3 separate regions of the Homo sapiens genome follow, and regions 1 and 3 are each linked to region 2. Evidence: fine-mapped expression QTL. A gene starts in region 2. Each other region holds a variant in brackets. All regions are shown on one strand. Distances are between the middles of the regions.

Region 1 (4,134 bases), 27 kb before region 2:
TTCCTGACCCCCTAAGCAGATTTAGGGCCTTTTCCTCCTGTGTTTCTCCTTGTACTTTATTATAAATGATTTCATTTTACAGTTGAATGTAGGAGTCTGTCTCTATCTTTGCGTTCTTCTTCCCTAGTACAACATAAGCTCCCTGAGATCAGGAACTACGTATTTCCACCACTGGCTCCGTGGTTGGCACATGGGTAGATGCTCAATAAACGCTAAGTGAAGGTATATAAAACCAACCTGTTAATGATTATATCTATTTTGTTAAATATCATTTTATAAGTGTAAATAATTTCTCTTAATATTCCTAAGGATAAGATGTATCAAAAACTAAGACATCTGATTTCTGTAACAGACATTACAGTTAAGAAAAAGCAGCATTACGAAAGCATCTGAAAGTATTAGGCCATAGTTTCTGAAAATATACGGTCTATTTAAAACCTTTAGGAGACTCACACCTGTAATCCCAGCACTTTGGGAGGCCAAGGTGGGTGGATCACCTGAGGTCAGGAGTTCAAGACCAGCCTGGCCAACATGGTGAAACCCTGTCTCTACTAAAAATACAAAAATTAGCCAGGTGTGGTGGCACATGCCTGTAATCTCAGCTACTAGGGAGGCTGAAGCAGGAGAATTACTTGAACCCAGGAGGCAGAGGTTGCAGTGAGCCAAGATTGTGCCACTGCACTCTAGCCTAGGCGACAGAGTGAGACTCCATCTGAAAAACAAACAAACAAGAAACCTTTAGGAAAAGAGGGGGTTATCAATTTGGAAGGAGCACAAGGCTACCTTCTGGGAGACTGAAAATGTTCAATATTTTGTTCAGGATGGTGGTTAAAATACAAGCAGCTGTACCTTTAAGATTAATACATTTCGCTGAATATACATGTTAACCTGAATTTAAAGAATCACATACATATCAAATATGCAGTACAGGACTCTGAATTCAAATTGTAACTACAGATTCAGTGTGACCATGGACAAGATACTTAACTTCTCGATGCCTCAATTTGCTCACCGGTAAAATTAGGGTATTAGAAAAACCTCAGAGAATTGCACTAAGCACAGAGTTAAGTGCTGCTCATATGTTGAAATCAGTGGGAAGTAACTTTTTCCAACAGAGAGGTCTAATTTCTAGTATGTTTCTCTTTTCTTTCTTGAAATGAATCATGAACACAGATTCTACAGCAGAACAAAAATAAATGCTGTATTTGAATAACATTTTTATTATTAGAGCCCGAGTGATATATCATCAGCCCACCATCATCTCTCAAGCCTTTGGATAAAGTGGCTCCTTGATTACATCAGGTAAGTCCTTGGGGTATGCTGGGGAAGGGGTGTGTGTGACTTATTACTGATCCTCTGTTATCTTGGCCATGCATGCTACAGGCTGCCAATCCCTCTATTAATGAATGAAAACTGATGACAATGGTAAGATTTCAGCTACGCATCTTTCCGTTTGCAGAGTGACAGAAGCTCCACACTCAGAGGAGGCTGCACGATAGGTCAAATGAACCTTGTTACAGATGGGCAACACAAGAAGGAACAGGGTCAGTTCAGACAGTGCCAGGGCAGAGCCAAGAAGCATGAGTTTGGCAGCTAATTCTGCCACTTGACAGGTAACTGTTCTCTTTGGCCCTAATTATTCTCACTCGTAACTTAAGCAAGCAAGAACAACAATGCTCACAAAAGACTATAAATCTGTAAGTAAAGACTAGATACTTATTTGTATAATCCTCTTTCTTTAAATCATCTTACAATTTTTCAGGATCCAGATGAAGGCTCCCCTAGGTAAGTGTAGTTCTGGATTCACAGAACATACCTTTAACCCCTCTTGCTTCCCCCATTCATCGAAATGATTTTTGATGTCAGTCTATATATATAAAAGAACCACCTCACAAATTCCCACAAAGGACGCAAGTTGAAGCTCTCTTTTAAGGAAACTGCTTCTCCAGCATCCCTTTCAAGTAATAGTTTATTTTTGCATATATTTTGCATATCTAACCTCTTTCAGAGTTTGATCTGTATCCTTCTTACTCCTTGAAGCCTCTTCCAAGCCATTACTTCCCTACCCTATTAAACACCTTCACCCTGCTGAGGCCCCACACCAGAAGGCTGTTAGCTCCTCCTAACTCCTGCTTGCTGTCTGACATCAGGCTAGTCACTCCCCTCATTCACTGAAAGGTTTGGCACTTGGCTCAGTTTTCCTCTACACTCCAGTACTGCCACCATCCTGGGTGACTTCATGTTAATAATCAGCAAGTTAAGATTTTAAAATCTCATCTCTAATCAACCACTCCATCACACCACCTCTGCCTTGATACCTGAGACACGTCCCAGACC[A/G]TTATCACTTGTAACTGCTTTACTTCCAAAATCATCAAACATCTCATTTTCTGACCATACCCTCCTGTCCCTCCAGTGTGTTCAGGAACTTCAACCGTGACCATCCCTGACCACACTGGAACCACCTGTGCTCAGCTCCTCTTTTTCCTCCCAATTTATCAGCTCACTCTTTCTTGTTCCCACTTCCCTTTTCTTCCAGCTAAGATTCTTTAACCTATTATCTCAATTATACTCCTAGAATTATCTTTTACCTTTGTCTTTTTGTCACTTTTAACTAGCAAACCCCCAACCCAAACTAATTCAACTATCCGATTTTCGTGCCTGGTCCTGAGCTGCCACCTCCTGTTGATGGTCAGTTCACCTTCTCATTCCCTATAATGACTATTTCAAACGGTTCCATTCACTTCTCAAAACTCTGACCCTTTCATTCTTAGCATATATTACTTCCAGTTTGACAAAAAAAATAGACCCACAAGATGGGAACTTCTTGTTTTCAAACATAAACACCTACATCCTTTGGTGCTACCTCTTCTCCCTTCCTGCTATAACTTTGCCTCTCCCCTTACCAAGGTCAACCCCTCCACTGGCCTTTGTATTGCACCCTTCCCACCTTCTCAGACACCTGTCATCATCAATTATCTTTTCTCTCTCTTCTAGAGTCACCTCTTCTAGGAAAGCACTTAGATTCTTCTAGTCAGCAATTAAATAAATTCAAGTCTTAGAAAAAAAAAAACAACCTCATCTCAACTTCTATTCCTCTCCTCTCTTCTGACACCTGTAACCTTTCCATCCTTCACCTCTTCTTCACCACCAGACTTCTTGAAAGAACAGCACATATCTGCTATCTCCAGTTCCTCACTTTCCACTTACTCCTCAACCTACTCCTCTTCTACTCTCCTCACTCTAACAAAAGAGCTCTCACCAGGGTCACCAATAACCTTCTTGTTCCTAAATCTAGCGGACTTCCTTTTCAGTTCATAGTTTGCTTTTAACGCTGCTAAGTGCTCCCTTTGTTTTGAAACATTCTTTCTTTCCTTTGGTTCAGGCAATTCTACACTTTTCTGGTGTTTTTCTGGAACACCTTGCTGGCTACTCCTTCTCAGTCTCTTTGTAGGCTCAGACGTCGACTACCCACCTGCTAAAGCCTCAGTACCAAGCCACTTTGTCTGCTCACTCCATGTTCTTATCCTAGGCAAACGCTTTGAATGCCACCTATTCACAACTGACTCCCAACTTTTTAACCAAGCCAGTAGCTTCCTCTGAGCTACCTACCCACATACTCAACTGCCTACTTGACATAACCTCTTAGGTATTTCAAAAGCACTTCAAACCCAATGTATCCAAATGTAAACTCAAGGGCTGTACCTGCCCACACCTGGTATTCTTCTATTGTTTCTTCTATCAATGAAGGACACCATCTCTCTATGTGAGCTAGAAACTCAGCAATTAAGCTTCAAATGTCTTTCTCCTTCATCTGCCCACAGCCAATCCACCAGCAGGAACTGCAAAATTTATCTCCTAAACATCTCTGGGATGAATCTGCTTCTCTTCATCTCCATTGCCACCACCTTAGTACAAACTACCATCATCTCTCAGCAAGCTATACTGAAATTAATCTCGTGACTAGTTTATCTGCCAATCTACTCTTTTCAAAATCCAAGTCTGATACTGTTACCTCTCTAAGATGCCTCAAGGGGCATTTTAAGATAAGGGCAAACAATTTTAACAAGGCCTATAAAGTACTTCTGCATTTGATCTGTGACTCACGTTGACCCACCAAGGTCATCACTTAACTCT
Region 2 (4,134 bases):
GCTCCAATCCCATCCCAATTTAAGAGTCATAAGGTAAGCACCACCTTTTGCTGGCCTAGCTTCATCTGGTAGCAATAAAGACGTGGGAGTCTAGTATTCCCCACATTCCACTCATTCCCTCATAAACACCCCAGAGTTGCTCTTAGGACTTAAAAGTTCCAAACACAGATGTACCTGCTTTTTGAGAGAAGGGCAAGGGAGAAGGGAGCGTAGATGTTTTTCCCAGGAGTCCACCTTGTACGTCATTCCTAATATGAACACCCTATGTTTATTATAAAAAGAACTCTCATATACTTTATCTTATTTGTTCTAGTCTCACAAATTGGCGAGGCCTCAATCAAGTTGTAGTCCAGGTGCTTTCTTTGGAGGGAAAGGGCTATGAGCGCACATCTTCTAAGTACACGACATCAGCAGTGTAGTACGTGCACCATGCCTTACAAGTGAGACACAAAAAATTTATTGGTAGTAAACTTCCTATAATAGACATTACCAGCCTAAGACTTCCTGAGAAAGACACCCTGTCAATCATCTGATCAGACCTGTACTTGCACAGAGCTCTGCTCAAGCTATGAGTTCAATAACTGTTTGTTGCATTATACTTGACTCCAACTTTGTTCCACTCCTGAATAAAAATTTACTGAGGCCTGAACTTGAGAATGCGTGTCCTGAAAGTAGAAACCCTCAGTCTCTGGCTCACCTGGGCAGGGAGAAAGGTTTCTCAAACGAGCCAAGACAAATCAGAAATCTTAATTTGATCTTCCTAAAACATAAGTCAGATCACTCCACTGATTAAAACAAGAGCTTCACATTCCCCTAGAGCAGTGCTGACCAAAAATCATGAGAGCCACATATGTAATTTCAAATTTTCTAGTAGCCACATAAGAAAAAAAGTAAAAACGAGAGAAATTTTAATTGAAAAATTTAAATTTATATTTAATATATTTCATGTGACCCAATATATCAAAAATAATCACTGCAACATGTAATCAATATAAAAGCTCTTAATGAGCTATTTTACATCCTTTTTTCATACTAAGTCACTATACTCGTGTGTATTTTACAACACATCTCAATTGGACTAGTCACCTTTCAAGTGTTCAACAGCCACATGTGTGGCCGGCAGTTACCATACTGGCTGGACAGTGCAGATACAGAAGAAAACCCCAAGTCCCTATCCTGCAAGGCCCTGATGATTTGGGTCCTCCTAACCTTCTCTCCCACTCTCTCCCTCTCCGGAGCTTCACTGGAGGCCTCTATAAGGTCCTTTCAGCCTCAAGGACGTTGCCGAAATGAATGCATGAATGAATGAAAGCATGTTACAAATATCCGAGGCCAGGCCTTGCGTGATTACAGTAGAGGCCGAAAGAGGCAGGGCTGCTGGTCAAGGTCAGACGGCTAGGTGGGGTGAGCTCGGGGCCTAGCCGGAACTAGCGGAGAGGAAAACAAGCCTCCGCGTCGCCCGCCCCGCCGCCCCGCCGCCCCGCGGGCTCACCTCCTCCTTCAGGTAGTCAAATTTGGTCGGCTCGGGCTGCCGGGCTGCCCAGTTCTTCTGTTTCCTTTTCAAATCCCGGTCGAAAATATTCAGGGTTCTGGGCGAGGTGCTACCGCGGGGAGAGACACCAGAGGTGACTTCCCTACGGCCAAGATTCTCCGCTGGGACCCTCGCCGCCCAAGGTCGCCGACATAAGCGCCAGAGCCCTGCCGGCCGCAGCATCTCCAGCTGCGACCCCAATTGCCGGCGCTTTTTGTGCGCATGCGCCAGCGCGGCTTTTGTGTCTACTCCAAAGATCTTCTCGAGGGAACGTGCAAGTAGTTTGGCCTAGTTCGCTTGCCATTACGGCGGAGCGTCACGCGGAGGATTGTGGGTGTGAGCCCCACGTGAGGCTTGGTAGGACTGCGGACGGTGAGTGGGGATGGACTGGAGTTGAAGAGCTCGAGATGAAGGGCTTGAGGGCGTGTGTGTGTGTGGCGCGGGGAAAAAACTAGTCTCTAACAGGATCTCTTTCGGATCTGCGAGGGGTTTTGCCCCTTCCTCCTGAGCCTTTTTCGGTCTCATTCTTCAGTCTTCATCGATCCTTTTCAGGGTCGCTTCTCGAATCAGTCTGTTAGCTGCCCCCCTGCGGTACAGGAGGTGGAAAGGAGACCCTAGTTCAGGGGCCAGCCCTGTGTTCTCCGAATTAGAGAGCGGGCAGAAGGGGAGGGTGGGCTACGGGGATGCGGGCGCGTGTCGGGAGTGAGGTCCGGTCGCCTTCCCCTCTCTCGGATTATCTGACATATAATGAGTGCTTTCCTTCTAAACATTTACAATACATGCAGTACTTCTCCTGGTTGAGGTGGTACCTACCTCGTAAGATTGCTCAGAGAGTTAAGTGCTGTAATACATCGAAAAATGTGTAAATGCACCAGCGATAGCTTCCTTTTTTTTCCTAGTTAGTGTAATTAAAAGGACTTGATTTTTAAATAAGAAATATTGCCCTTTTAATCATTTTGGGGGGGGGTTGCTTAATAATCAACGACTTTTGGCTCTTTGCAAAATTCCCATCCAGAGATGCTAAACCATTGGAGACTTTTCACAAGGGAACAATATTAATTTATACACACATATGTATATGTTCTAGTATGTTTTGGGGGAATGAGCTCACTTGGGCCTTCATCACTGGTAGAATCAGATATTATAGAAAGAAGTGATATTTATTAACTGGTGTGAGACTTTACCTGGAGACTCAAATTTACTTTTTATTTTTAAACTTTTTATTACTTTTGAAGGATGATCGAATTTAAAAAGGAAACTTTCTTAGCTAAACCTGAGTTGATTTTGGTCTGTTTAGTTAGAATGCTAGTCTTACAGAACTAAAGGCTGTTTGTTGGCAGTAGCCGGAGATAAGGAGTAAGCAGAATGAGACCAGAATGTGAAGAAACAAATGAGGCCAACGGAGGCTAGGGAATCTTTCTTTCTTACTTTTTTTTGGTAGACAGGGTCTCACTCTGTTGCCCCAGCTGGTGTGCTGTAGTGCCGTTAGGCTCACTCTAGCCAAGACCTCCCGGGTGGAAGTGATCCTCTTGCCTTAGCCTCCAAAGTAGCTGGGACTACAGGCGCGCGCCACCATGCCGGGCTCATTTTTGTATTTCTTGTGGGGATTCACCATGTTACCCAGGCTGGTCCTGAACTCCTGGGCTCAAGTGATCCGCCCGCCTTGGCCTCCGAAAGTGCTGGTGAGCCACCGCACTCGGCCTAGGGAATCTTAACTACATTTGCCTTCAATTAGTAACACATACTGGTATACAAATAGAAATTCTAAGTGAGAGCAATGGATGAATAAACATTTGTTCCCCTCCATAAAGCCCTGGGATTCTGCTTTGTCTACCTTAAGTTTATTTCTCTAAATGATCTGTCATGGAAAGAGGATATTTTGGTATGTTTCTGCTTTTTTGCATGTGACCCAGAATACGTTGGAGAGATGAAATTAGACTTGTTACCTCTATTTTATGTACACTTAACTTAGAATATATTAACTTAGAATATATTGTGAATGTGTTTTAAAACATTTAATTATTGTACTAACCATTATTACCATTAAAACATTTGTTTTATTTTTCAGTATTTGTTTTCTTCAAGCATTTGGTCGAGATTAAGAATTAAAAATGTCATCCAAACAAGAAATAATGAGTGACCAGCGGTTTAGACGGGTTGCAAAGGACCCGAGATTTTGGGAAATGCCAGAAAAGGATCGAAAAGTCAAAATTGACAAGAGATTTCGAGCCATGTTTCATGACAAGAAGTTCAAGTTGAACTATGCCGTGGATAAAAGAGGGCGCCCCATTAGCCATAGCACTACAGAGGATTTGAAGCGTTTTTACGACCTTTCAGATTCTGATTCCAATCTCTCTGGTGAAGATAGCAAAGCATTGAGTCAAAAGAAAATAAAGAAGAAAAAAACCCAGACTAAAAAAGAAATCGATTCAAAAAATCTAGTTGAGAAAAAGAAAGAAACCAAGAAGGCTAATCACAAGGGTTCTGAAAATAAAACTGATTTAGATAATTCTATAGGAATTAAAAAAATGAAAACCTCATGTAAATTTAAGATAGATTCAAACATAAGTCCGAAGAAGGATAGCAAAGAATTTACACAAAAA
Region 3 (4,134 bases), 39 kb before region 2:
AGCGTGAGCCACTGTGCCAGGCCCATCATCCCTCTTTTACAGAAGAGGAAGCTGAGGTCAAGTAACTTGTCCAAGACCACATAGCCAGTACTTAACCATTGCATTGACTGCCTTGAGAAAGTTCATAAACAATTTTGCAGGTGAACAGATTCTGATAACTGAATGTAGATTTTTCGAGAATTATTCAAATTATTTAACAAGCCTGTACAATGCCTAGCATTGTGCTAGGCTAATGTTTCCCCAAACGAGTTCAAGGTCTTACTTGATCCTCCTTGATAAAAGGGTTACTGGACCATTAAGTCTGGAAGATGTCCTAAAATTTAGCCTGCTTTGGGAGATTCAGAATTACATCAAAGGTTCTGCGAAACCTTACAGGAAAGATATCCACATGCTTACCTCAGCTTTGCTAACCACATTTACCTCTGGAAATTCTCCTCTCCATCTCCTGTGCTCCACCTCTACCTTCTTTTGCAACACCTATAAATGTAAGAGTTATTGTACCAGACACTTAAGGCATCTAATGAGCTTGGCTTCCTAAGCCTAAGAAGTGTGATGCTTTACCTGCTAAGTGTTATATTGATACTTTGAAGAATGGTTCTCATTTCACAGCAGTTGAGTAACTAAACACAGGTACGCTAGTTAGTGGTAGAAAGGGGATCCAATGGGAGGGTGTGACTTCAGAACTCATGCTAATCTTAGCCACTACTCCACTGGGCCACCCTATATCTAATAATAGGTGAACATCTTGTCTGGATGGGAATCTACCCTGCCCCATGACATAATGCCGTCAGCTGCGCTGCAGGCCCTGCTTTGACCTCACATCATGGTTCTAGGCTTACTCTCTAAAGTCAGGCCCTTCCCTGTCTCTCAGTCCCAGCAATTGTATTTCTGCCCCATCATTCACATGCATGTCTCTTTTTCCTTGGGACCCAGATTCCTCTGAGATAGGAGTCTAGCTTTGAATCCCAATTGAGTGGCTGATCCTTAGAATTTGCAGCTGAACGTGCCTGATGCTAGCTGCCTGTTCTTCCGGTCTCCTGCTGTGCCGTGCTCACAGGGGTCATAGTGACTCTATCTGGGCTTTCCCTGGGGCTGTTGGAACCCTGGTTATTGCAGTGCCAATGCTCAAGGAAGCTAAACAGTTAGCTGAAGAGGCAGAATTCATGAACAGGAAATGATGTACAAAGTGCTAAAGGAGATGGAACTAACCAAAGTTCAAGATGGCCTGGGACAAAAAAAGAGCTGGATATGAAGGGTGACAGCTCCCAGTAGAAGGGACCCAGAAGAGTTTGGAGTGCAGGCAGTTCTGCAGGGACAAGGATTCAAGGACGGGGCTGAGCAAGTGTTGGAGACAGTGGGTGCAATCACCTGACTGGTTCTAATATGCGGCTGGAGTGTTCAAGGGTATGGTGGAAGGGAGGATGTGAAGAAAGGCTGGGAGCTCACAGAAGGTTTTGACTTGCAAAGAAGGCAGCACACTACAATCATTAATTGTACTGTTCCCTTCACATACAAGACTGAAGTCAAAATTGTCTCTGTCACTTATGTGACCTTGGAGAAGTCACAACCTAAGCCTGTTTCCTCATCTAACAAATGGGGACAATAGTACTAATATCTCATAGGGAACTGAGGATGAAATGTGAATTGAGAATGGATATCTAAGGCTTAGCACACTGCCTGGTGAGAGCACAGTAAGGGCGCCTTCAAGAGGGCTTTACCAATCCGTAACAACTGTGTACAGGTTCAAAGAAGCCTCCTTTGTGGAGAACCATGAGTGTTCAGCTGGCTCCTCAGGAAATTACATGGACAACCAGTACTTTCGTATCTATTTCTTCACTTGGCCCTCCAGAGTGCTGCCACCTGAAGCCTGAGCATTTCCTGTTCTGCAGCCAGGACTTGTCACCTAGACAAGTAACTGGGAACTTTGTGCAAAACTAAGGGAC[A/G]CTTCCCAAATGCTGAATGCTTGGTGCCTATGAGAAAATGTCATCTTCCATGGAAAATATAGAAGGCTATCCATGCTGGACATATAAGGGTCTGGGGCCCTCCTTTGTGACCCAGAAACTTAAAAATGAAAATGCATTCTTTGGCGAGGCACGGTGGCTCACGCCTGTAATCCCAGCACTTTGGGAGGCCAAGGCAGGCAGATCACCTGAGGTCAGGAATTTGAAACCAGCCTGGCCAATGTGGTGAAACCCTGTCTCTACTAAAAATACAAAAATTAGCCAGGCATGGTGATGCAGGCCTATAATCCCAGCTACTTGGGAGGATGAGGCAGGAGAATCACTTGAACCCGGGAGGCGGCGGTTGCAGTGAGCCGAAGTGGCACCACCGCACTCCAGCCTGGGCGAGAGAACAAGACTGTCTCAAACAACAACAACAAAATGCATTATTGAGCTGGGCATCGTGGCACATGCCTGTAAGCCCAGCTCCTTGGGAGCTTAAGCCCAGGAGTAAAAACAAAAACAAAAAAACCCAAAAAACCCCAGCATGCTGACTCACTTTTTAAAGATTAAGGGACCCAAAGTAAATCATGCTGTGCTTCCTTCTTAAATCTTATCCTCAGGGGAAGTCAAAGTCTACTTTGAAGGGAAAAGAAGTCCCCAAGGTCAACAGAGTCTGAGAAACTGTAAAGATGGGAGGGCTTCCTGTCCACTTTGCCTTGGGACCCAGGTTCTGGGGTCAGGCTGAAAAGCTCCTCTGAGATCATCCTGTCCAATGGCTCGCAACCATTTCCCACCTCTAACATGAGCTCCCTCTGGCTGTGACTCTCAACCAAGGAGAGAAAGGTGGAAGTGTTTGAAAAAGCCCTTCAGGAACGTGAAAGGCAGGCTGGTAGCCTCCTTTGAGACTCACCAATTAGCAAACCTGTAATTTTACAGATGAAGATATTGAGGTCAGAGAGATGGAGTCTGCCCCAGCATTAGGAACAAACAGGACCAGCACTAAACCCAGACCACCTGACTCCCAGTCCCCGACCTTTCTTTGACTTCCATAGTTTTTTATGGCAGACTGGCAAGTCTTTCTTTGGAATTCTCCTCTTCCCAATCTCCCACTCACAATCTGAGCACAAACACTCTGAGCACAAAAACAGTACACCTGGTAAGTGTTCCTGATATTCTACCACCAGACCTGTTCTGACAGAACTAGCAACGGGCATCCTGGCCAAACGTGTGATTCCTGAATGAAGAGTCTAGACACTGGCCGGGTTACAATGGCCACTTTCAAAGTGCAGGCAATTTACTTTTGCCTGGTTTTAGCAGTGACTAACAATGTACGATCAAGTCTGGCTTTAAAGAGTCCTTGTTATTTCCACATCCTTGTACTCATTTGTGAGCCTGGTAACAAGTATGCAGTGTCAACAGTCCATCCTAATGAGCTGTCGCAACTCAACAGCTACGGCAGAAGGGAACTGGCTGAAGAATCTGTGTGCAGTTATGTAGCTCACTGAATTCTCATGGTCTTCCCAAATTCTCTGATTTCATTTGGAAATTAGCCCATCGAGGCTTCCAAAAAATTTATCCTAATATTCCCAGGAAAGAAAATTTGAGGCCTACTAAACTTAATGTGGGAAGTTAGTTCCATTTCAAGATATCATGGAATCAAACCTCCAGGCAAGAGCATTTCAGGTCTGGTGTTCTCTGAGAACAAAAGTAATACAGTTTATGTTAACTTTACCTAATTGTAAATAAGGGGGCTATGTTTTATGCTGAAAATAACAACTCAGAATACCTTGCCCACCCTAATACACCTCCTGAAGACAGTGTATCGCGTATCAGTTATCTATTGCTGTGTAACAAATTACTCTAAAACACAGTTGCTTAAACCACAAACATTTATCATCTCAGTTTCTGTAGATAAGATATTTGAGAGTGGCTTAGCTAGGTGGTTCTAGCTCAGGGTCTCTCATGAGGTTGTGGTCAATGCATTGGCTGGGACCACAGTCATCTGAAGTTTGGGCCTGGAGAATTGCTTCCAAGATGGCTCCCTCACATGGCTTTTGGCTGGAGGCCTCTGCTCCTCACTTCTAGGTCTTCTCCATGGAGTTGAGTGGCCTTACAATATGGCTGCTGGCTTTCCCTAGAGTGAAGGATCCAAGAGAGAGTAAGGAGGATGCAATGCCTTTTATTACCTAGT

What was found. PIP is the estimated chance that this variant, and not a neighbour inherited with it, causes the effect.
Region 1: its variant is the best candidate, but not a certain one, in a credible set for the expression of NDUFAF5 in visceral fat (GTEx, PIP 0.54).
Region 3: its variant is the best candidate, but not a certain one, in a credible set for the expression of NDUFAF5 in cerebellar hemisphere (GTEx, PIP 0.55).

Annotation. Positions count from the first base shown.
Region 1 is chr20:13,809,549-13,813,682 of GRCh38, reverse strand. The region is part of intron 8 of NDUFAF5 (NADH:ubiquinone oxidoreductase complex assembly factor 5); the gene reads right to left. Among named protein-coding and RNA genes, the nearest start is that of NDUFAF5, 27 kb to the right of the region's middle. The variant A/G (reference allele first, on the strand shown) is at 2,338.
Region 2 is chr20:13,782,649-13,786,782 of GRCh38, reverse strand. It overlaps NDUFAF5 (NADH:ubiquinone oxidoreductase complex assembly factor 5), which reads right to left and starts at 1,755. Exons shown (of 11, transcript NM_024120.5): 1 at 1,493-1,755. The coding sequence starts at 1,714. ESF1 (ESF1 nucleolar pre-rRNA processing protein) reads left to right here and starts at 1,864. Exons shown (of 14, transcript NM_001276380.2): 1 at 1,864-1,903; 2 at 3,600-4,134. The coding sequence starts at 3,643. RefSeq lists enhancers at 845-1,534, 1,530-1,819.
Region 3 is chr20:13,821,265-13,825,398 of GRCh38, reverse strand. It overlaps NDUFAF5 (NADH:ubiquinone oxidoreductase complex assembly factor 5), which reads right to left. Exons shown (of 11, transcript NM_024120.5): 11 at 3,819-4,134. Among named protein-coding and RNA genes, the nearest start is that of NDUFAF5, 38 kb to the right of the region's middle. The variant A/G (reference allele first, on the strand shown) is at 1,944.